Regions from separate parts of the Homo sapiens genome. Here regions 1 and 2 are each linked to region 3. Evidence: fine-mapped expression QTL. A gene starts in region 3. Each other region holds a variant in brackets. All regions are shown on one strand. Distances are from middle to middle. Region 1 has its middle 7.9 kb from the start of CYP3A7-CYP3A51P. Region 2 overlaps ZNF655 (zinc finger protein 655). Region 3 holds the start of CPSF4 (cleavage and polyadenylation specific factor 4).

Evidence for each region. PIP is the estimated chance that this variant, and not a neighbour inherited with it, causes the effect.
Region 1: its variant is fine-mapped to the expression of CPSF4 in tibial nerve (GTEx, PIP 0.99).
Region 2: its variant is fine-mapped to the expression of CPSF4 in esophagus mucosa (GTEx, PIP above 0.99).

What each region holds. Positions count from the first base shown.
Region 1 is chr7:99,739,002-99,747,182 of GRCh38, reverse strand. No RefSeq gene overlaps it. Among named protein-coding and RNA genes, the nearest start is that of CYP3A7-CYP3A51P, 7.9 kb to the right of the region's middle. RefSeq lists a cis regulatory region at 2,678-4,506 and enhancers at 5,722-5,740, 7,065-7,083, 6,923-7,435, 8,150-8,161. The variant C/T (reference allele first, on the strand shown) is at 4,757.
Region 2 is chr7:99,569,259-99,577,439 of GRCh38, reverse strand. It overlaps ZNF655 (zinc finger protein 655), which reads right to left. Exons shown (of 3, transcript NM_138494.3): 3 at 987-5,195. The coding sequence ends at 3,856. Among named protein-coding and RNA genes, the nearest start is that of ZNF655, 15 kb to the right of the region's middle. The variant G/A (reference allele first, on the strand shown) is at 3,614.
Region 3 is chr7:99,434,513-99,442,693 of GRCh38, reverse strand. It overlaps CPSF4 (cleavage and polyadenylation specific factor 4), which reads right to left and starts at 3,751. Exons shown (of 8, transcript NM_006693.4): 1 at 3,509-3,751. The coding sequence starts at 3,611. ATP5MF-PTCD1 (ATP5MF-PTCD1 readthrough) reads left to right here. Exons shown (of 9, transcript NM_001198879.2): 3 at 7,426-7,904. It overlaps PTCD1 (pentatricopeptide repeat domain 1), which reads left to right and starts at 3,896. Exons shown (of 8, transcript NM_015545.4): 1 at 3,896-4,002; 2 at 7,426-7,904. The coding sequence starts at 7,452. It also overlaps the pseudogene LOC100131859. RefSeq lists silencers at 3,457-3,756, 7,255-7,402 and enhancers at 4,017-4,306, 5,603-6,128.

The DNA of each region.
Region 1 (8,181 bases), 300 kb before region 3:
GCATAGTATTCCATGGTGTATATGTGCCATATTTTCTTAATCCAGTCTATCATTGACAGACATTTGGCTTGGTTCCAAGTCTTTGCTATTTTGAATAGTGCCACAATAAACATACGGGTACACGTGTCTTTATAGCAGCATGATTTATAATCCTTTGGGTATATACCCAGTAATGGGATGGCTGGGTCAAATGGTATTTCTAGTTCTAGATCCCTGAGGAATCGCCACACTGACTTCCACAGTGGTTGAACTAGTTTACAGTCCCACCAACAGTGTAAAAGTGTTCCTATTTCTCCACATCCTCTCCAGCACCCGTTGTTTCCTGACTTTTCAATGATCGCCGTTCTAACTGGTGTGAGATGGTATCTCATTGTGGTTTTGATTTGCATTTCTCTGATGGCCAGTGATGATGAGCATTTTTTCATGTGTCTGTTGGCTGCATAAATGTCTTCTTTTGAGAAGTGTCTGTTCATATCCTTTGCCCACTTTTTGATGAGATTGCTTGTTTTTTTCTTATAAATTTGTTTGAGTTCTTTGTAGATTCTGGATATTAACCCTTTGTCAGATGAGTAGATTGCAAAAATTTTTTCCCATTCTGCAGGCTACCTTTTCACTCTAATGGTAGTTTCTTTTGCTGTGCAGAAGCTCTTTAGTTTCATTAGATCCCATTTGTCAATTTTGGCTTTTGTTGCCATTGCTTTTGGTGTTTTAGACATGACGTCCTTGCCCATGCCTATGTCCTGAATGGTATTGCCTAGGTTTTCTTCTAGGGTTTTTATGGTTTTAGGTCTTACATTTAAGTCTTTATTCCATCTTGAATTAATTTTTGTATAAGGTGTAACGAAGGGATCCAGTTTCAGCTTTCTACATATGGCTAGCCAGTTTTCCCAGCACCATTTATTAAATAGGGAATCCTTTCCCCATTGCTTGTTTTTGTCAGGTTTGTCAAAGATCAGATGGTTGTAGATGTGTGGTGTTTGTTCTGAGGCCTCTGTTCTGTTCCATTGGTCCATATCCCTGTTTTGGTACTAGTACCATGCTCTTTTGGTTACTGTAGCCTTGTAGTATAGTTTGAAGTCAGGTAGCGTGATTCCTCCAGCTTTGCTCTTTTTGCTTAGGATTGTCTTGGGAATGTGGGCTCTTTTTTGGTTCCATATGAAATTTAAAGTAGTTTTTTTTCCAATTCTATGAAGAAAGTCATTGGTAACTTGATGGGGATGGCATTGAATCTATAAATTACCTTGGGAAGTATGGCCATTTTCACGATATTGATTCTTCCTATCCATGAGCATGGAACATTCTTCCATTTGTTTGTGTCCTCTTTGATTTTGTTGAGCAGTGGTTTGTAGTTCTCCTTGAAGAAGTCCTTCACCTCCCTTTAATTTGGATTACTAGATATTTTATTCTCTTAGTAACAATTGCAAATGGGAGTTCACTCATGATTTGGCTCTCTTTCTGTTATTGGTGTATAGGAATGCTTGTGATTTTTGCGCATTAATTTTGTATCCTGAGACTTTGCTGAAGTTGCTTATCAGCTTAAAAGGATTTTGGGCTGAGACGATGGGGTTTTCTAAATATACAATCATGGCATCTGCAAACAGGAACAATTTGACTTCCTCTTTTCCTAATTGAATACCCTTTATTTCTTTTTCTTGCCTGATTGCCCTGGCCAGAACTTCCAATACTATGTTGAATAAGAGTCATGAGTGAGGGCATCGTTGTCTTGTGCTGGTTTCAAAGTTTTTGCCCATTCAGTATGATTTTGGCTGTGGTTTTGCCATAAATAGCTCTTATTATTTTGAGATACGTTCCACCAATACCTACTTTATTGAGAGTTTTTAGCAGGAAGGGCTGTTGAATTTTGTCGAAGGCCTTTTCTACATCTATTGAGACAATTATGTGGTTTTTTAATCGTTGATTCTGTTTATGTGATGGATTACATTTATTAATTTGCATATGTTGAACCAGCCTTGCATCCCAGGGATGAAGCCCACTTGATTGTAGTGGATAAGCTTTTTGATGTGCTGCTGGATTCAGTTTGCCAGTATTTTATTGAGGATTTTGGCATCAATGTTCATCAGGGATATTGGTCTAAAATTCTCTTTTTTTGTTGTGTCTCTGCCAGGCTTTGGTATCAGGATGATGCAGGCCTCAGAAACTGAGTTAGGGAGGATTCCCTCATTTTCTATTGATTGGAATAGTTTCAGAAAGAATGGTACCAGCTACTCTTTGTACCTCTGGTAGAATTCAGCTGTGAATCCATCTGGTCCTGGACTTTTTGGTTGGTAGGCTATTAATTATTGCCTCAATTTTAGGGCCTGTTATTGGTCTATTCAGACATTCAACTTCTTCCCGGTTTGGTCTTGGGAGGGTTTATGTGTCCAGGAATTTATCCATTTCTTCTAGATTTTCTAGTTTATTTGTGTAGAGGTGTTTATAGTATTGTCTGATGGTAGTTTGTATTTCTGTGAGATCGGTGGTGATATCCCCTTTATCATTTTTTATTGCATCTATTTAATTCTTCTCTCTTTTCTTCTTTATTATTCTGGCTGGCGGTCTGTCAATTTTTTTGATCTTTTCAAAAAACCAGCTCCTGGGTTTCACTGATTATTTGAAGGGTTTTTTGTGTCTCTATTTCTTTCAGTTCTCCTGTGATCTTAGTTATTTCTTGCCTTCTGCTAGCTTTTGAATGTGTTTGCTCTTCCTTCTCTAGTTCTTTGAATTGTGATGTTACAGTGTTGATTTTAGATCTTTCCTGCTTTCTCTTGTGGTCATTTAGTGCTATAAATTTCCCTCTACACATTGGTTTACATGTGTCTCAGAGATTCTGGTATGTTGTGTCTTTGTTCTCATTCATTTCAAGAACATCTTTACTTCTGCCTTCATTTTGTTATTTGCCCAGTAGTCATTCAGGAGCAGGTTGTTCAGTCTTCATGTAGTTGTGTGGTTTTGAGTGAGTTTCTTAATCCTGAGTTCTAATTTGATTGCACTGTTGTCTGAGAGACAGTTTGTTGTGATTTCCATTCTTTTACATTTACTGAGCATGCTTTATGTCCCATTATGTGGTCAATTTTAGAATAAGTGTGATGTGATGCTGAGAAGAATGTATATTCTGTTGATTTGGGGTGTGGAGTTCTGTAGATGTCTATTCAGTCCACTGGGTGCAGAGCTGAGTGGACATGAACATTTTATCAAAGAAGAAACACAGCTATCAAAAATCCAGAAATATTGAACCTTGTTAATAATAAAGTGGCTGGCCTCTGGTTCATTCCTGTAATCTCAGTCCTTTGAAAGGCTGAGAAAGGAGGATCACTTGAGGCCACAAGTTCAAGACCATCCTAGACAAGTCAGTTCAAGACCAGACTTCATGTCTACAAAACATCAAAAAATTAGCCAGGCATGGTGATGCATGCCTGTCATCCCAGCTACTCAGGAGGCTGAGGCAGGAGGATTGCTTGAGCCTGGGAGATTGAAGTGGCAGTGAGCCATGATTGTGCCATTGCACTCCAGCCTGGGCAATGCATCAAGACTCTGTCTAAACAATAATAATAATAATAGTAATAGTAATAATAATAATAATAAAGAAAACGGTTGGGACGCCATTCCTTACTTATTCAATACACAAAGTTAAAAGCAATTTCTACTTTCTCTATTTTTTTATTACTAAAAAAAGCTGAACCATTCTCACAGCCTGAAATGCTTCTCACCTTCCCCTCTTCTATACAAACACTTCTCTGTTGATGATAATGCAGACAGTCTCTCCTTTAGGAATACTTCACACCAGGTAGTTCCAGATCCCCTTATCTCTGCCTTCCCAGAGCTCCTGGTGTCTCCCCAGTTCCCTCTGTGTGGTGAAGTACCCCCACCTTGGGTCTCAGCATGACTCGTTCTTTGAAGGTCTTGTTCACATTTTCCCTTATGGTTCTGTTCCCCTGTGTTGTGTCACAGCACTGGGCAGAGTGGACAACCCATTCACACCGATAGAGAGGGCCCCATGGTTCTGGAGATAACCATGTAACTGATCAGAATAGGGCATTGAGGGCTGGGTGTCAGGCATGGGCTGCACTTGGGTGGGCAGGCCCCCTGGAAAGTCACAGGATTTGGCAAGCTTCCTAGTAACATCTCTCCCTGGGGTCCTCTTGGAACTTCATGCCCGATGCTGGATGCTGGTTTATTCTCGAGAGATGGTTCATTCCAATAATCAATGAAACTCATGTCCCAACTAAAGTTCATAAACTCCAGTTTGTAAACTGAGATAATCTCAGCTGAATGAACTTGCTGACCCTCTGCTTTCCCCCAGCCTCTCAGTGCCCTTGAAATCATGTCAGTTCAAGCAGCCCCATGAGGCATTACAATGTTTAGTTATTTCAGTGTTTATTAAACCTTGCCCTATGCTGACCCCAGGTGAATCACAAGCTGGACTTCTGACAAGGACAAGCTATGATATTCTTTTCAATTACAGAAAAAGTAAGTTAACTGATAGGATTTTTTAAAGATGTTACTAGTTTTGGAAAGGTAATTTGTGCACATGGTAAACAAGAAGGTATAAGAGGATAATGCTTTTATACTGCTGAGAATAATGTTTTCTCTAATTTTTTTTGGTAGATGCTTTCATCAGATTAATAAAATTCACTGCTGTTAGTTGTTGAAGGTTTTTTATATCATGAATGGGAGTTGAATATTATCATGTATTATTAATATATTATTATTGAACTAGCAAAGGCTCTTCCTAAAACAATTGAGATGATCTTATAAT[C/T]ATTCTCCTTTAATCTGTTGATGAGATCATTGGTATTTATACTTTTTCTCTGTTAACTATTCTTGAGTCTCAGGTTTAAATTCAACTTGGTCATGGTGTATCATCTTTGAACACTCCTGTCTCTGGCTTGCTACTATTGTGTTCAGCATTTTTGCACTGATGCCGATGAATGAGACTGGCATGTCATCTTCCTTTGCGGTCCTGATTTTTTTCAGATTTGGATCATGTGGCCCTCATTGAATGAGTTGGGTGTGATGCCTTCTTTTTCATGTAACTGGATTGATGGGACACTTTGGAGTCTCTCCAGATGGCCCTCAATGGTCCCTGCCTCCTCATTGTTAGGCTCCTAGGCAACCCTTTCTCATTTCTGGTAGGCCCAGGAACCTGTGGGTTTTATGTTTGTTTGTTTGTTTGTTTGTTTGTTTTTTGAGTTGGAGTCCTGCTTTGTCTCCCAGGCTGGGGTTGGAGTGCAATGGCCTGATCTCGGCCCACTGCAACCTCCACCTCCTGGGTTCAAGTGATTCTCCTGCCTCAGCCTTCTGTGTAGCTGGGATTACAGGCATCCACCACCACTCCTGGCTAATTTTTGTATTTTTAGTAGAGACGGGGTTTTACAATATAGGCCATTGTGATCTCTTGGACAGGCTAGTCTCAAATTCCTGACCTCATGATCTGCCTGCCTCAGCCTCCCAAAGTGCTGAGATTACAGTTTTGTGCCTCCACACACAGTGAATCTGTGGTTTTTAAAAGCTCCTCATGCATGTGAATTCTGTGAGCATCCCGGGATGACAGCCACTGTGTGTCCAGCTGTTAAAACTGTGAGAAAGCACCAGCGGGACCCTCTCCAGCATTTGCTTGCTGTGGTCATGAAAGAGGCTTGTTGGGGAGATGATGCCCTGGTTGACTCCTGAAGGATGGTTAGGAATGCACCAGATGGAAGCTGGGTTGGACCCAGTCTATGCTAAAGAACAGCTTGTGTGGACACAAGGAGACACGAACACATCATTTTTGCAGAGCCTGGGGAGTAGCCAATCGCACCATTTGCTTAAAACACCGTGTACAGTTGGAGAAGTGGACTGAGACAGGCTGAAGAAGCTAACAGTGGCCAGATGAGAAAGGGTCTTGTGTTACTTCCTAGATATACTTAGATTTTATCCTGTGAGTGATAGGAACAGTTGCAGGGACTGAAGCCAAGGAAGCATGCTTTAAGATTCCATGTTTTTTGAGATGCTGTCTGGTGGCTGAGTAGGGAATTCCCTGGATAAGTACTGCCCAGGGTAGGCAAAAGAAGCTAGGAGGTTACTGAAATAAGGAGTATGAGAAATGGTGTAGGTTTTGCTGATGTTTTGTAACACATCTCATGACAATCTTCATTTCCTTCACCAATTTCCTGTTTCATTAATTCCCTTCCACGTGCTCTTCTGAAATTTGCCTCATATTCTTTGATTTCTCTTTTACATGTTGGTTTCATCACCTTTTACTTTTTGCTTTCCTGGAAACACAAATGATTCTGATTGTGACATGTCAGAATTATTTGCAACATTCCCCTTTCTGCTGAAACATGAGCTCACTGAATACACAATTTAGTAAAGTGTAGGATGCACATGTTGTTTTCATGGTCATAACCAGCTCTGTAGCATTTTATAACTACACTGGCAGTGTGCTGGGAGGTGTAGAGAGAAATATTTATCTCATGTGTGGCTGACACAACCTGCCAAGTTGTTTTAGGAGCCTTCTTGGAATCCCAGCAAGAACACCACTGATGCAATTTGAAATCACAATGTCCTGCTCCATGCCCTGGCTTCATGGCTTAGTCACGTCTGAAGTCTATTTCTAACTATCTGTTTCCACATCTATAAAGCATGAGTTAAATCATCCTAATACTACTCATCTTACAAAGTTTTCTTGCTGATATTAGGAGAGTTGGGAAAGAACTGTATAAATTATGAAGTGCCATGGAGATGTTGGTGGTTACTTTATCAAGAAATAGACACTCCAGAATAGAGTAGAAAGAAAACAGTTATGATTAAGTCCTCCTCCTCTTCTTTTTTTTTAATTTACAAAGAAAGGTTTAATTGAGTCACAGTTCCATATGGTTGGGGAGGCTCAGAAAACTTGCAATCATGGCAGTTGGCAAAGTGGAAGAAGGCACCTTCTTCACAAGGTGGCAGGAGAGAGAGAGCTCCTCTTCTTTTTTGTTGTAAAGTCTACAGAAGTGCATATACTTCAGGGCAAGGGCAGGCAGGGAGAAGAAAGGACATTGCTTCACCCCAGTCCTCACTGACAAGTTTGCTTTGGGACTTCATTTTGTCCCAGCATATGGGACAGAGCTCTGGCCACTACCCATTCAGAAGGCCTGAGCTGCATTGCTAGTTCCCCACTAACTCTGTGTGTCCTTGGGCAAGGCTGGGCTTATGTCAAAAGATTATGACCCTGGGCTCTCCAGCTACAGAATCTACATATGAATCCTGGCTCTGCTAGAGCAATTAGTGACGTAACCTTGGATGGGTCAGTTAACCTTCCTGTGGCTTAGTTTGCTCATCTGTAAAATAGGGATCATAACAACATCAATACCATGGGTTGTTAGACAGATTGAATCAGTTAATGCAGGGTAAATACTTAGCATGACACGTATTCACTATCATTTCCTTGAGTAAAAGCTGAGTGTGAGTGGGTGTGAGAATGTGTGAAACCCTTTCACTGCAATCTCAGTTAAGAAACCCATCCATAATTTAAAGTTCAGGGCCTAAATGGGTGGTTATCTTCTCCCAGTTGCATCCTATCCCACCTTTGCTCTTCTCCTGCCTGTAGGAGCTGTTGGTCTTTGATTGGGCTGGAAGACCTGGTGGACCCTAAGTGATCTATAAGAGAATGAGAATAGAGGACAGGGAATGTCTTCAAAACTCCTAGAGGGACACAGAGGCTGAGAGGCAGGCAGTCCTGCAGGGGTCTTCTGATTGGGACAAGGAGGACCTTGGTCTTCATAGGCCAATTCTGGTCAATTTCCCCCATGGACAGATGAGGAAACAGATCCAGGAATATCCAAGGTCTCACACTTCCCATCTGTCAAGTCTTGTTGATTCTGTTGTATTCATGTCTTTCAAAGAGAGAGAGAGTTTAAGGAAAGAAAGAAGGATCAACTGTGTCTGATATCACTGGGAGCTTAAGTAAAGGGTTCTTTTACTTCATAGCATTTTTCCCAATTTGTAATTCAGTATTATTTTTGTCACTGTTTAGTATCTCTTTGTCCTATTAGAGAGATAGCTTCATCAGGACAAGGATTTTGATTCTTTAATATTTAGTGCTTGCCACATGCCCTGAACACAGCAGGCATACAGACTAACCAACATACAGTGGCATCGAAGTGAGACACCTACCTCCTCCAGTGCCTAGAGTACATGTCCATGGACCTGTCACTCTCCTCA
Region 2 (8,181 bases), 130 kb before region 3:
CTATTTTAAGTAGAGACTGGGTTTCGCCACATTGGCCAGGCTGGTCTCCAACTCCTGACCTCAAGTGATCTGCCCGCCTCAGCCTCCCAAAGTGTTGAGATTACAGGCGTGAGCCACTGCACCTGGCCTGGGGTATGTTTACTAAAATATTCCTTTGTAAAATGAAGCTAGCTGCTTTGCAGAATTGAGAATAAAGTTTAGATATGTACAAACATACGTGTGTGTAGGTAGGTGGAAAGACAGAAGATAAAAGTGCCCTCTACTATCGTATTTCTCTTCTCTCCCCTTTCAAGACCAAAATGACTCAGAACACAAACTCATGTATCAGGCCAATTAAATATCTGCTTAAAGGATTGCCCTAAAGGACTATTTTGAGTCCGCCTTTTTTAAAGTGTTTTACTTATTTAAAAAATATGGCTGGGCACAGCGGCTCACGCCTGTAATCCCAGCACTTTGGGAGGCTGAGGCAGGCAGATTACCTGAGGTCAGGAGTTTGAGACCAGCCTGGCCAACACAGTGAAACCCGGTCTCTACTAAAAATACAAAAATCAGCCAGGCAAGGTGGCAGGTGCCTGTAATCCCAGCTACTTGGGAGGCTGACACAAGACAATCGTTTGAACCCAGGAGGCGGAGGTTGCAGTGAGCCGAGATCACGCTACTGCACTCCAGCCTGGGTGACAGAACGAGACTGTCTCAAAAAACAAACAAACAAACAAAAAGTTATTCCTAGTTCTACTGAAACCTCGAACTATTTAGTCTTATTTTATATACCAACAACTTCCCAATCAAATCCCCTTTAAGTCCCAAACATTCAGCTTTTGTTCCAGAGGTCTGTGGAAAAGCAAGCTTTGTTATCAATGCAAAGGAAAGTGATCCATTCTTGCTGTGAAGCAAGTTCCAGGGAGGAAAGGAGTTGCAGCCAGAGATGTGATTCCAACATTCCCAAACGCTTCTGTCTGAGACCTTCAGATTTTGTTTGAAACAAATTCTCAGAATACCAAACACACCTTTATTCAAGTGGAAGTACAAAAGCACATTCCTAAACCAAACGCATACATGTGATTTTTACATATTCTGCTTTTTAGGGATTACATAATCCTGTTTCAGTCACCATACGTGACTACTGGTCTCTATACATAAGGGTATACATGTTTGACAGGAAAAAACACATGCATTTTTCATTTGCTTTTACATTTAGATCAATTCATTTATATATCAATTTCATTTAGATTCCTACCTTGCCTTGATGAAATCCTACTCTTGCTGATGGCAAAGAAGTAAAATATAGTGGCAGAACTATCCTAGAGGTTAGCCATAGGAGGATTATAGAGTGAGCAACATATTTTTATATATTTGTTGAGGGTCCCTACTGAATATTATAACACTGAACTATGAAAGCCTCAATTGCTGGACTGACAACAAGAATTTTAAATAACATTTGTCTTACTCACAAAATGTTATAAAGCTTAAGATGGAAAAATACAAAATGTTTTGACATTACCTAAAGAATCATGAACTCTTGTTAGGTATATGATGGTGGCCCTGAACTTGAGCCAACATCTGTAATCACTTTTATCAGTCAAAAAGCCATGTTCTTTTATATAGCCTGTAGACTATTAAAATACAAAAATGTGGTAATGGATAAACAACTATACACAAAGCCCTCACACTTCAAATACTGTCCTGGATTGATGAGAGAGGAGCAGAATTCAAACATTTATCTGCAATCCTAATGGTTAAAATTTTACCAGGAACAGACCTGCCACTCTCTTGAAATACTGTCTCTGAGATTAACATACGAACAGCATCATCTCTGTTGGAAGGCTACATTCCCTTATGATGCTGATTTGTGTGTGTGTGTGTGTGTGTATGGTTTTTTGTTTTTGTTTTTTTGTGTTTTTTTGAGAGAGAGTCCTGCTCTGTCGCCCAGGCTGGAGTGCAGTGGTGCAATCTCGGCTCACTGCAACCTCCGCCTCCCAGGTTCAAGCAGTTCTCCTGCCTCAGCCTCCTGAGTAGCTGGGATTACAGGCGCGTGCCACCACACCCGGCTAACTTTTGTATTTTTAGTAGAGACGGGGTTTCACCATGTTGGCCAGGATGGTCTCGACTGCCTGACCTCGTGATCCATCCGCCTCAGCCTCCCAAAGTGCTGGGATTACAGGTGTGAGCCACCATGCCCGGCCTGTGTATCTTCTTTATGTTTACCCTACCAAGAGCAGACCTGAGCATTTTGCTGGCCGTAGAGGTATATAAAAGAACTCTAAGCTTAGGCATGCAGAATAGGCACTGGATGAATGTAGTGAGGCTATTAGGAGTCTTGTTGGCTCCCTGATGTCCTTATCATGTCTTCTTCGCAGACTGTGGATGCACACAAGACAGCTAAAACCTTGGGCATCATTTGAAAATGTTTGGCTGCCTGCTACAATCTCAGGAGAGAGAATCCTTCATACTTATATTGGACTGGATATATTGTCAATCAAATTCTTTTTTAAAAAAAGATGCTTCACTTTAGGAAATAAGACACCAGACCAGCAACATCAAGTAGGTATGGAATACTTGCTGGTGAAACACTTAAAACTAGGAAACTTCTAAATCTTCTAAAGGTGCTTAAGAGAATGGAGAAGTTAATCAACAGGAATCCAAGTGTTGTGGCTGTAAAGCAATACGACATAAGATCCCTAGTAAAGAGCAGGCCTAAGAGTTGGTTTTGGAAAGAACTTGGGCCAAGAACAGCAGAAAAAGCTAAATGAGCTACTTACGTCGATGTGTTTTAATACTGGTGCATTAGCAGTATCTTATGGAAGTTGTGAACACTAAGAACCAATTTCAAAAAATATAAAAATGTTTATAGGGCATATTAAAATAAAAACAGCTTAAATGAGTTCTATAAATAAAATAGGCCCAGCACAGTGACACACGCCTGTAACCCCAGCACTTTGGGAGGACAGGTGGGAGGATCGCTTGAGGCCAGGAGTTCAAGACCAGCCTGGGCAACAAAGCAAGACCCCATCTCTGTTCTTTTTAATATCAAAATTATAATAAAAAAGTAAAAATAAACGTACCTACTTAGAATACATATTAAATAAAGGAACTCCATGAGAAAATGTCACTGCATTTACCAAGTCAACCCTAGATTTTTGTGCAATGAAAAAGATTGGGACTATGTATTAACAATTTCATAAACAAATAATCAACAATTTTCTCTCCATTATTTCGATGTTGGGTAAAGCCTGAAATGTGGTGTCGAGTTTTTCCATTTGCGTTACATCAAATTCTTGTCTACTATGGATATTCTGATATGACAAAGACTAGTTAAACTCCTATTGAAAGATCTGCCATTTACTACACCCAAATAAGTTCTCTTAGGTATAAATTCTTTGATGTTGAATGAGCGTTGGGTTATGACTGAATCTCCTCACACACATACATGCTTATTACATTTATAATCTTTTTGCATGGCGTGAATTTGATACTAAACAAGGTAGTTTCTTTGACTGATGGCTTTTTCACATTCATTGCAGCAATGGAATTTTATTCCCATGTGAATTCTCCAAATGTGACTAAGGTATGAAAATACTAATAGCATGAAAAATTTGCCACATTCAATACATTT[G/A]TAAGATTTCTCACTGGTATAGATTTGCAGGAGTCGATTAAGAGTTTAACACTAATACCTTTTCTTCATTCGTCACATTCAGAGGGTTTCTCTCTGGTGTGAATTATCTGATGCTGAGCAATGGCTGAGCTATGACTGAAGGCTTTACCACATGCAGTACATACATGATTTCTCCCTGGTGTGAACTCTCAGATGCTGAATGAAGCCTGAATTTGATAAATATCTTCCCATCTTCATTACATTCATGAGTTCTCTTTGGTATGAATGCTCTGATGTTGAACTAGATGTGCTCTCTGACTGGAGTTCTTTTCCCATACATCACAATCAAAGGCTTTCTGTCTGGTGAGGACTTCTTGTTGCAGGATAAGATCTGAGCTATGACTGAAACTGCCCTCATACTCATTACATTCATACGATTTCTCTTTCCTATGCATTTTGTGATGCTGAATAAGGCATGAGGTTTGACTGAAAGCTTTTCCACATTCATTACATTCATGTGCTTTCTCTCCTGTGTGAATTCTTTGATGCTGAATAAGATGTGAATTCAATCTGAAGTCTTTTCCACATTCACTACACGTATAGGGCTTTTCTCTGAAATGAATTCCTTGTTGTTTAATATAGGCCAACCCATATTCATCATACTCATAGGCTTTCTCTTCATGATGGACCCTCTGATGTTCAAGTAGGTATGAAGTATGGCAGAAGTCACTGCCACATACAGTACACTTACAGGGCATCTCTTTGTGAATTTTCTGATGTTGAGTAAGGTGGACACTACGACTGAAGACTCTTTCACAACTGCTACATTTGTAAGATTTGGCTCTGGTGTGAATTTTCTTATGCTGAATTATGCCTGAGCTTGGACTACAGGATTTATCAGACGCTTCACAGGATTTATCAGATGCTTCACATTTGTAAGGTTTTTCTCTAGTGTGTATTCTTTTATGTCGACTAAGACTTGAGCTCTGACTGAAAGACTTTTCACATTCTTTACATTTGTAGGGCTTCTCTCTAGTATGGATTCTCTGATGTCTAGTAAGGGCTGAGCTCTGATGGAAAATTTTCCCACATACATCACATTTATAGGATTTCTCAGTGTTAGGGATGCTCTCCCATTTATTAAGGTGGGAGAGATCCATTAAGCTTTCCTTACATTCACTACTCTGAAAATCCTCTGTTAGATTTAAGTGTTCATGTTTACCAGAGGCTGAATTCTGGTTGAAGCTCATGTCATACTTATCATTGTCATCGGTATTCTGTATTCTAAGAACTCTCTGATCTGCATCAATAGTAGAGTCCAGACTGAAGCTTTTTTCGGGTTCATGACATTCATTGTTCTTCTCACTGGTGAAGGTTTCCTTGCTGATTGTTATTTGCCTAAACTCTCTCTCCAGGTACAGAAATTTCCTTAGAATTTCCTGAAGTCTTTCTAATCTGTCCTCAGACTTATACACTTCTCTAGTCTCAGGAACTTGGGTAATATCGTGTTTGAGTCTTCCTACTCTCACTTTGTATGAATGCACTTCTTCCGAAATTTTCTGCTTAGGAATCAACAGCTTGTTCTCTTCTCTGGTCTCTCCATCTGATACAATATATAAATAGAAAATGCAAATGTAATCTGTACCCTGTGCTTAGGAAAAGAAAACTCAGATGAGAAAACTAAACAATGTAGTATCTACAAGGACAAGAAAAGTTTATTTACTCTGAAAAACAGGCACAAAATCTCAACAGCAGAAGTTAAGGGCATAAACAGGAGCAGTGAGGTAAAACAGCGGACATGTTCAGCAGAGTAAGGAAATAATAGGGAAACAGCTGAAAGAATTTTAGATAAGCAACTTGATTGGGGTCTAGTACGACATGTGCACGGATACTAAACAAATGGAAAGGGTCAACCTAACTGAAGGGAAAAGGAAGGAACTCTCCATGCTAGGACACACACAGAGCTCTTCATTCTGAGTGCCAAAGCAGCTACAACTTGGCTCAACAATTGAACTTTACTTCCCTACTAATTCTATCTGATTCTGCCTTACTCACCTGAGCAGTCATCTCTTAAGACTTCTCTAGTCTTAGTTTCCAGATCAAAGACCTGTAGATCCTGTTCCAGCTGGGAGATCCCATCAGGCTTGGAAATTGGAAATCCTGCTCATAGAGAAGGAAATGGGATGTGGCAATGTATCCCCAGGTCCTACATCTGCCACTTTTTCTTTTAACTAATGATTAAGAGAGACAGAAGGTCGATTCTGAGAAGACATTAATTAGGAAGGTCTGGAGAGTGAAGAGGGCAAAGATCTACAAGGAGCTCAGATTTGTGCTCTAGAGGGATGTGTGTTAAGGGGCAAGTTGATGACTTGGGAGCAGAAGGATTCATTTAAATATTATTCAGACAACAGAATGTGTGCATGGGTTTGTCTTCACAGAAGTTATCATTATCACTCTCCATCTGTTACCTAAAGATTAATCTTCGGATTAGATCTGGTCTACAAGTATCAAAATGGAGGTCATCAAAATGTAATTCTGCTGGACTGGAGAAAGGTGAAACTCAAGCACCTGCTGCATGGTTAGCTAACCTGTAGCAAGAGAATCAGTGAAAACTGAATAAATATTCTAAGGACCAATCTCAAGAAACAATTTGTTTCAGTACACATAAGAAAACAAAGAGTAATATGACACATTCTTACCCATTAGGAGTGTAGCATTTATTCAACAAACATTTATGAAGTGCCTCCTCTATGCAAAGTATGCAGGGGATAAGAGGCCAAGAAGGTCCCTTCCCTCAAGGACCTCACACTCTACACAGAGACAGCTCTAAACAACTAACTACAATAAAATATAGAGAGGGAAGTGCAATCAGTGCATCTTCACATAAAACAGTCTTTCTATGGCTTGCATAATGCAATGCTTGGATATAAATCTCTTTTAAAGCTAAAGCAACAGGCAGTCTGCTTCCAAGGAGACAGAATTTTAATACTATTAGTATCAAAGGGCAGTTTTTAAATGTGTCCAGCCCAGAAAGCTTCTAATAGCACACATACAAGGTCTGGCTCAAGCCCCTCATCTCCAAAAACCTTTCTCTCCATTTACTGAATGTGTACAAAATTTATTAGTTGTTCCCTCTTATCCTGACATGTCACATATAACGGTGTTTACATAGATTTTTTTTTAAGTGGTTTCAGGTATTGTCATTCATACTTGATTTATAAACTCTTTGATAGAAGGGACCAGGTATCTTGTATCTTGCAATTCTTTTGATTAATTTACTTAACGGCTACTTATTGAGTGCCAACTCTGTGCGCCCAAGTATCAATGTATTAACAGCTACCCAATTTTATAAAAAGGGCATTGGGGCTGGAAAATATGAAGAACTGACAGCTGCCCCAAAGATTCCATGTGAGAGCCTATGAGCAAGGAGATCAGAATAGATAGAAGAAAGGTATTTACTGTGTTTCTGAAATCCTGTGGGACATTTAGAGTCAACTCTCCTTGTGGACATATATTTAATTAAGGTCCACCCTGTCAAATGAAATCGTTTCAGAAGTTTAAAAAGTAAAGTTAGTGTAACATGAAGCAGCAATCAATATTGTTCTCAGAATTCCAATAACATAATTTGCAACTTTTAACTCTGAGATATTTAAAGTGTCTGTCGATATTTGGTAACTGAAATAAATTCTGGCTGCTTACTCCATATCTACACTTAAAACACATATGCACAACAAAAAAGGTGGTCTTCATGTGGGATGAGGGGTTTGATTTTAGATGTGTGTTTAATGTAATGTACGAAGGTATAAGAGAAAATGCCCAGCAGATGAGTACGCAAAGGCATACAGAGTGATAAAATGGACTTCAGAGACTAAGAAGGGAAAGGGTGGGAGAAGGGACAAGGGATAAAAAACTATATATTAGGTACAATGTACACTATTCCAGTGACAGGTGCACTAAAATCTCAGAATTCACCACTATGTATTAGAATTCATCCATGTAACAAAAAACCACTTGTACGCCCCCAAAACTACTGAAATAATTTTTTTTAAAAGAGAAAATGCCTAGCAGGTAAAGATACAATATCACAGTTTAGAAGAGAGAACAGGGTATCATCAGTACCATCAAAATATTATTAAGTTTTACTAAGTACTTGGTAGGTGCAAAGTACCATGCCAAGAGCTCTCTAGGTTTTCACTCATTTAATACCATAAATTTAAAACGTAGAAACTATTATTATAGCCATTTTACAGATGGGAATACTAAGATTCAGAGTGGTTAAGTAGCTTGCCCAAGGTTACAATAACTGGTAATGCTTAGTTTTCAAACCTGCACAGTCTTATTTCAGAACCTAGCCTTTAAACAATCTGCTAGTAAAAAAAAAATTATGATTTTGCCTCCTAACAAGCCCTGAAAAAAAATAAATAATGACTGTGAACAAAATCCATCCCTTCCTCCAAATTACACACAGAAAGAACGTGTAAGTTTTCTTGGCACTAGCCTAAATGCCTATTTCCTAAATTTAACTCAAAACTTTGCTTTCAAAATATGCACTTGCTTTATTTACATTTTTCCTGTTTAAAATTAATGTA
Region 3 (8,181 bases):
TATATTGCTTGTTTTTTGTTTTTTTTTTTTTTTTTTTTGAGACGGAGTCTCGCTGTTGCCCAGGCTGGAGTGCAGTGGTGTGATCTCGGCTCACTGCAGGCTCTGCCCCACCGGGGTTCACACCATTCTCCTGCCTCAGCCTCCCGAGTAGCTGGGACTACAGGCACCCGCCACCTTGCCCAGCTAATTTTTTGTATTTTTAGTAGAGACGGGGTTTCACCGTGTTAGCCAGGATGGTCTCGATCTCCTGACCTCGTGATCCGCCCGCCTCGGCCTCCCAAAGTGCTGGGATTACAGGTGTGAGCCACAACGCCCGGCCGATTATGTTGCTTGTTAATAAAAAAGAAAAGAAAAGAAAAAAAAAGCACAGCCTTTCATTCCCACAGTCGGAGTGTGCTGGAATTCAGTGGGCTCCAGGGACCAGCTGTTCTGATGAGTCCAGGAATTCACCAGCCCCAGCTGCCAGACTAAACTGACCTTGGCATCAGAAACAGTTTCCTCTACAAGTAACCATTTTAGAATTGCTGAAAAACCAATGACAGCATCTCTGAAGCCCACTTAACATGCCTCCCCTTGCTAAATCACAAAAGATTCCTTGGCTTCTTGGAAGCAAGCAGATTTTGCTAGGACACAGCTGAGGTTATAGAACTTATGGCTGTCACAGGGAGGTCACTCCATTTGCATCTCAAAAAGTCTGAAAGTGGCCAGGTGCGGTGACTCACGTCTGTAATCCTAGCACTTTGGGAGGCTGAGGCGGGTGGATCACTTGACATCAGGAGTTCAAGACCAGCCTGGCCAATATGGTGAAACCCCATCTCTACTAAAAATGCAAAAATTAGTCAGACATGGTGGCACGTGCCTGTAATCCCAGCTACCTGGGAGGCTGAGGCAGGAGAATCACTTGAACCCAGAGGCAGAGGTTGCAGTGAGCCAAGATCGCGTCACTGTGCTCCAGCCTGGGTAACAGAGCAAGACTCTGTCTCAAAAAAAAAGAAAAAAAAAATTCTGAAAGTACTTCTGGTCTCTCTCTTTAGAGGTTAGAGTTGCTTCTGCTCAGAAATACACAGTTCTGGGAACTGAGTCTCATGTGGATAGGATGAGTATGCCTTATGGGCAAAGTGACAGTTCTTCCCAAAACTCAGATGGGGATGAAGAGGAGGGATGGGTGAGGAAGGGCTGTGGCCTCACTAGGCTTTAACTGAACAGGATATGGACAAGCAGCGAGTGTGGAGGGTGCCTACCGACTCTGAAGCCCTGGCTGGAGCAACACCCATGGCTAGGTGTGTCCCGGGCCTCAGGAACAGGTATGTGGGCCCCTCGCCACTGTACCTCCCCTCACAGGCTTGTGGATGTGTCAGATGGCAGAAGGGTGGGAGGAAAAGAGCTGCCCTGCGTGGGTGGTTCCATGGTCTCAAGCTAGTGCCATCAAGACAGGAAAAGGCCGGCTGGGCACAGTGGCTTATGCCCGTAATCCCAGCACTTTGGGAGGCCGAGGCAGGTGGATCATTTAAGGTCAGGAGTTCAAGACCAGCCTGGCCAACATGGTGAAACCTCATCTCTACTAAAAATACAAAAATTAGTTGGGCGTGGTGGTGGGCGCCTATAATCCCAGCTACTCAGGAGGCCAAGGCAGCAGAACTGCTTGAACCTGGGAGGTGGAGGTTGCAGTGAGCCGAGATCGCACCATTGCACTCCAGCCTGGGTGACAAAAGCAAAACTCTGTCTCAAAAAAAAAAAAAAAAAAAAGACAGGAAAAGGCCACATGTGCAGGGATGATCACAAGAGTCGAGGGGTAGGTAAGAGGGGGTGTGTGTGTGTGAATTTGAGCAGCTGCTTTTTAGGGAGTGTACAGTGGTGATGGTGTTTGTGCCTGTGTCAAATAGGGTGGTCTGATGATGTCTCCTTATAAGCACTATCTTGTCTTCTTGAAGACTTAATTAATTTCCAATGAAACTATCTTGTACAGAACTATCACCATGTAAAGTTGTGGGACAGGCAGGAAAAAAAAAAAAAAAAAAATATATATATATATATATATGCCAGGTGCAGTGGCTCATGCCTATAATCCCAGTACTTCCGAAGGCCGAGGTAAAAGGATCACTTGAGCCCAGGAGTTCAAGACCAACCCTGGGAAACATGATGAAATAGTGTCTCTACCAAGAAATACACACAAAAAAATTTGCCAGGCGTGTTGGTGCATGCCTGTGGTCCCAGCTACTTGGGAGACTGAGGTGGGAGGATTGCTGGAGCCTGGGAAGTCGAGGCTGCATTGAGCCATGATTGCGTCACTGCACCCAGCCTGGGCGACAGAGGGGCCCCTGTCTCAAAAGCAAACAAACAACAACAACAAAAACACATAAAGGGACAGACTCAGAGGTCACATGTGCATGAGAAGGTGTGACCGCCTGAGGGGAGTGAGGCTGCTGGGAGCGGTGGGAGACCCCGCTGGTAGTTGTGGGCGACAGCACACAACACTGGAGAGCTTGCCCGCCTCTGCTATGCACTGAGTGATTGTCAGCAAGTCCCTTCCCCCGCTTGGGTCTCAGTTTCCCCATCTGTGGATTGAACTCAGTGACTTCCACAAGCCCCCAAACTTTAAGGTTATAGCATTAGATTTCAAGTATGTCCAGATAGGAAAGAAGACACAAAGAAAACTACTGGTTTCTTTTAAAGTACAAGATATCCCACCGAGTAGGAGGTGGGAAGCCAGGAGCCACCATATGAAGGGGAGCAGTGAAGGGAGTTCAGGCCAAGGGTCCACACCAGCTGCTGGGTGTGATGAATAACTCAGAGTTGGGGTCCAGAAAAAAGTAGGGACGGGCCAAAAACTAGGGATGAGCTCCCAGGAGAGTGAGTCCTAGAAGGGAGTTTGAGAGTCTAGCTGGGGTCTCCTACAGAAAGGTGGTCCTTCCCTCAGCACATCTCCTCCAACCGCCTAGTTTTGATGAAATCAAGAAGAGACGCTCAACGTAGCGGGTGTGATATCCTAGTACTCTCCTGCAGTTGGGAGAGTGTTGAGGGAGAGTTCCAATCCAGGATAACCCACCCTTATTCAAGAATTAAGCGAACAGACAAGGTCTACCCTCCTACAGATTACCTTTGAACAGCCGCAGAGGGCCAAAGATCCGAGGCAGTGAACTCCTGAGTCCGAGTGAGGGTAAAAGGAGTCCCCAGACGGTGGAAATGGGGGCCTGGGAGTCAGGAGTCCTGAAACCAAGGGGAGCGTCCCGGGATCCAGAAGAGGAGGTCTCAGGATGGAGTGGGAAGAGTCTCGGGACCACAGATGAGGGAGTTCGGTAACTAAAGGGGAGGATCCCAGGACCCGGAGGAGGTGGGAGGGACTCTCAAGACCTAGAGGGAGGAGTCCTGCGACCAAAGGGGAGGGGTCCCAGGATCCAGAGGAAGCCGGGGGAGGTCTCAGGACCGAGGCGAGGGAGTCCCGGGATCACAGAGGAGCGGGTCCCGGGTTCGAGTCGCTCTTGCCCTCCCGCCCGGGCCCCGCGCTCACTGTCCATGCCGGGGAAGGGCAGCGGCTGCGCCCCCAGCTGCTGCTCCACCGCGATCTCCAAGTCAAACTTGATGTGGTCCACGCTGGCGATGATTTCCTGCATGGCGGCGGCGGCGGCCCCACCGGCCCGGCTCCCCCTCGGTCTCCTGCAGCCTTCTCGCCTTTACCCGCCGCCGGCCCCGCCGCACACACTCCTCCTTCGCTTCGCCTCGCCGCCGCCGCCGCCGCCGCCCGAGGGATGCCGGGAGCGCCCGGAGCCCGCGCCGGCCCTTGCGCCTGTCCAGGCACTGCCAATCGAGACTCCGCCGTTCCGCTAGTCCCAGCTAGCCGCCAGCCGAACACCGGCCTCGCCAGAAACCTGAAACCAGCCGCGTGAGTCGGCGACGCGGATTGCGCCTGCGCGCTTGGGGAGAGGGGGACCCGAGGAAGAGACTGGTTCGCCGCGGGGACCGGGCAGGGCTCCCCGTCGGAGTGCACTGCGCCGGACACTTCAAGTGAGTTCCTGTGTGATCCTCGCAGGAGCCCCGGGACCCGGGCCAAGACACGCCAGAGGGGAAGGAAGTGCCCGAGCCGGGATTGGAGCCGGGGGCGTCTGAGGAGGGAAACTGAGGCTGCAGAAGTCCGTGTGGAGAGGGGTCGGCGTTGGCCTGAGGGTCCGGGTGGGCCTCTGAGGAGGGGCGGGTCTCTCCGAGGAAGGACGGCCGCAGCGTGTCTCTAATTCAGGGTTTTTTCTCGCTCTGTGGCCCAGGCTGGAGTACAGGGGTACGATCATAGCTCACTGCAGTCAACTTCTCAGACTCAAGCGATCCTCCCACCTCAGCCTCCCGAGTAGCTGGAACTACAGACGCTGCACCACCACACTTGGCTAATTTTTAAAATTTTATTTTTAATTTTTGTAGAGACGGCGGGGTTGGGGGGGCGGGTGGCGGGTCTTGCTATGTTGCCCAGGCTGGTCTCGAACTCCTGGCCCCAAGCCCAAAGCGATCCTCCTGCCTGGGCCTCCCAAAGTGCTGGAATTGCAGGCATGAGCCACTATACAGCCTAATTCAGGGTTTTTTTTAACCAGGGTGGGGTAATGAGCTTGTGTAGGAACAAAATGCACCCCTATTTTTCTCTATGTGAAGTATAGCATTTCCTTTCCTGATTGCTGGAGCAGCCTTAGCAGTGCCTGAAACTGTGAGGGTGAGTGTAAATGATAGTTCCAGATAACAGTTTGTGCAGGGCCAGGCATGGTGGCTCACACCTGTAACCTCAGCACTTTGGGAGTCTGAGGCGAGAGGATCACGTGAGGTCAGGAGTTCGAGACCAGCCTGGACAGGATGGCAAAACCCCGTCCCTACTGAAAATATAAAAATTGGCCTGGAGTAGTGGCGCGTTCCTGTAATCCCAGCTACTTGGGAGGCTGAGGCATGAGCATGGCTTAAACCCGGGAGGCAGAGGTTGCATTGAGCCGAGATTGTACCACCCCACTCCAGCCTGGTGACAGAGTGAGACGCAAAAAAACCCAGTTTGTGCAGCAACTACAAGGTGGTATCTTAAGCTGTCACTTACATTTATTACTGCTTTGAAATTATGATAGAGTCGGCCGGGCGCGGTGGCTCACGGCTGTAATCCCAGCACTTCGGGAGGCCGAGGCGGGCGGATCACAAGGTCAAAAGATCCAGACCATCCTGGCCAACATGGTGAAACCCTGTCTCTACTAAAAATACAAAAATTAGCTGGGCTTGGTGGCATGCGTCTGTAGTCCCAGCTCCAGGGGAGGCTGAGGCAGGAGAATCGCTTGAATCCGGGAGGCGGAAATTGCAGTGAGCCGAGGTCACGCCTGAGGACAGAGTGAGAGACTGTCTCAAAAAAAAAAAAAGAAAAGAAAAGAAATTATGATAGGGTCTTGTTATTTCATGCATTGAAAATAAGCATCTATACTAGTATAGCAGAAATTTGTTTTTAAAGCATTTTGATGCCATTTCAATATCATTGCTTTTTGTTTTGTAATTCTGTGTATTGTAATTAATGCACGTAAGGCAGGGCATGGAGGCTTACGCCTGCAATCCCAACACTTTGGGAGGCCAAGGCTGGAGGATTGCTTGAGGCCAGGAGTTCTAGACCAGCCTGGCAACATAGGGAGACTCCATCTCTACAAAAAAATACAAAAAATTAGACAGGTATGGTGGTGTGCACCAGTAGTGCTAGTTAATTGAGAGGCTGAGGTAGGAGGATCACTTGAGCCCAGGAGTTGGAGGTTGCAGTGATTGTGCATTTGCACTCCACTGTGCCATCGCACTCCAGCCTGGGCAACATGAAGACCCCATTCCACAAAAAAGAAAATTACATAAACACCATGCTTGTAAGAAGGAGTGGCAGGGCTTGCCAGATGCAGAATGATAAAGGCCCCCTGCACTAGTTTCACAAAAGGTGCTGGTCAGGACAATCATCAATGCGTTACATGGACCTGAGTTCAAAGCCAGCCCAGCCCAAGCTGGCCAGTCTCACCCACTGCACTGCTGCAGGACCCCAGCAAGTCTCTCCCCTTGCTGGGCCTAGTTTTTTGTTTGTTGTTGTTGTTGTTGTTTTGAGATGGAGTCTTGCTCTGTCGCTCAGGCTGGAGTGCAATGGCGCGATCTTGGCTCACTGCAACCTCTGCCTCCCACGTTCAAGTGATTCTCCTGCCTCAGCCTCCCAAGTAGCTGGGATTACAGGGGCACGCTGTCACGCCCAGCTAATTTTTATATTTTCGGCAGAGATAGGGTTCACCACGTCAGGCTGGTCTCGAACTCCTGACCTGAGGGGATCCACCCACCTTGGCCTCCCAAAGTGCTGGGATTACAGGCGTGAGCCACCGCTCCTGACCTACTGGGCCTAGTTTTTAATCTGTTCAATCTGCCATCACTTGTAAGACTTTTCCAATCGCAACCTTCTAATATAACCAGACTCTAAAATACTTTAGGCTGGGCATGGTGGCTCATTGCTGTAATCCCAGTGCTTTGGGAGGTCGAGGCGAGAGGATTGCTTGAGTCCAGGAGTTCAAGACCAGCCTGGGCACATAGCAAGACCCTGTCTCTACCAAAAAATAAAATTAGCCAGGCATAGTGGCTCACACCTGTAGTTCCAGCTACTCGGGAGGCTGAAATGGGAGGATCGCTTGAGCACAGGAGGGTGGGGCTGCAGTGAGCTATGTCTGACCTGAACCTAGGCTTTCTAACCTCTGGGCCCATACTTCTTATTTTATTTATTATTATTATTTTTTTTTTTTTCTGAGACAGAGTCTCACTGTCACTCAGGCTGGAGTGCAGTGGCGCGATCTCAGCTCACTGCAAGCTCCGTCTCCTGGGTTCAAGCGATTCTCCTACCTCAGTCTCCTCAGTAGCTGGGATTAGACGTGTAGCACCACACCCAGCTCATGTTTTTTGTATTTTTAGTAGAGATGGGGTGTCGCCAGGCTGGTCTTGAACTGATCTGCCCGCCTCGGCCTCCCAAAGTGCTGGGAGTGCAGGCATGAGCCACCGCCCCTGGCCTGTTCTTTTTCTTTCTTTCTTTTCTTTTTTTTTTCGAGACAGAGTCTCACTCTGTCACCCAGGTTGGAGTATGGTGGCGCAATCTCAGCTCACTGCAAGCTCCATCTCCCAGGTTCAGGTGATTCTCCTGCCTCAGCCTCCTGAGTAGCTGGGATTACAGGCGCACAGCACCAAGCCTGGCTAATTTTTGTATTTTTCATAGAGACGGGGTTTCACCATGTTGTCCAGGCTGGTCTCAAACTCCTGACCTCAAGTGATATGCCAGCCTCGACCTCCCAAAGTGCTGGGATTACAGGCATGAGCCACCGCGCCTGGCCTGGGCCCATACTTGTAACCACTTCTTTCTTTCTGCCTTTTGTTACTAGGAACTGAGTTGACTCTCTTATTTTTCCTGATATATTCCAGGCCCTGGAGGGACAGGAAAGCCAGAAATGGACTTCGTGAGACTCGCTCGACTGTTCGCCAGGGCCCGCCCCATGGGACTGTTCATCCTGCAACACCTGGACCCCTGTAGAGCCAGGTGGGCAGGAGGCAGGGAGGGGCTGATGCGGCCAATGTGGGCGCCCTTCAGCAGCTCCTCCTCTCAGCTGCCCCTCGGCCAGGAGCGTCAGGAAAACACGGGCAGCCTGGGCTCTGACCCGAGCCACTCCAACTCCACGGCCACGCAGGAAGAAGACGAGGAGGAGGAGGAGAGTTTTGGGACCCTCTCTGACAAATACTCCTCCCGGAGACTATTCCGCAAATCCGCAGCCCAGTTCCATAACCTGCGGTTTGGGGAACGGAGAGATGAGCAAATGGAACCGGAGCCCAAATTATGGCGAGGCCGGAGAAACACCCCGTACTGGTACTTCTTGCAGTGCAAACACCTGATCAAGGAAGGGAAGGTAAGGGGCACTTTGGGTTCTGTGGCTCCTGGCTTCTTTCCCCTGGTGGCTCAGTGTTTTGCAAGGGGTCACCTGACTTTCCCAGCCTCTAAGTTTTGGGCCTACCCTGTTGAACTGCCAGCCTTATGGCTGTAAGTATCGCAACCCTTTGCCATCCTCCACCGCAGTTTTATTTTATTGTATTTTTTTTTTTTTGTAGAGACGGAGGTTGCACTGAGCTGATCTTACCACTAGACTCCAGCCTGAGTCACAGAACAAGAGTCTGTCTCAAAAAAAA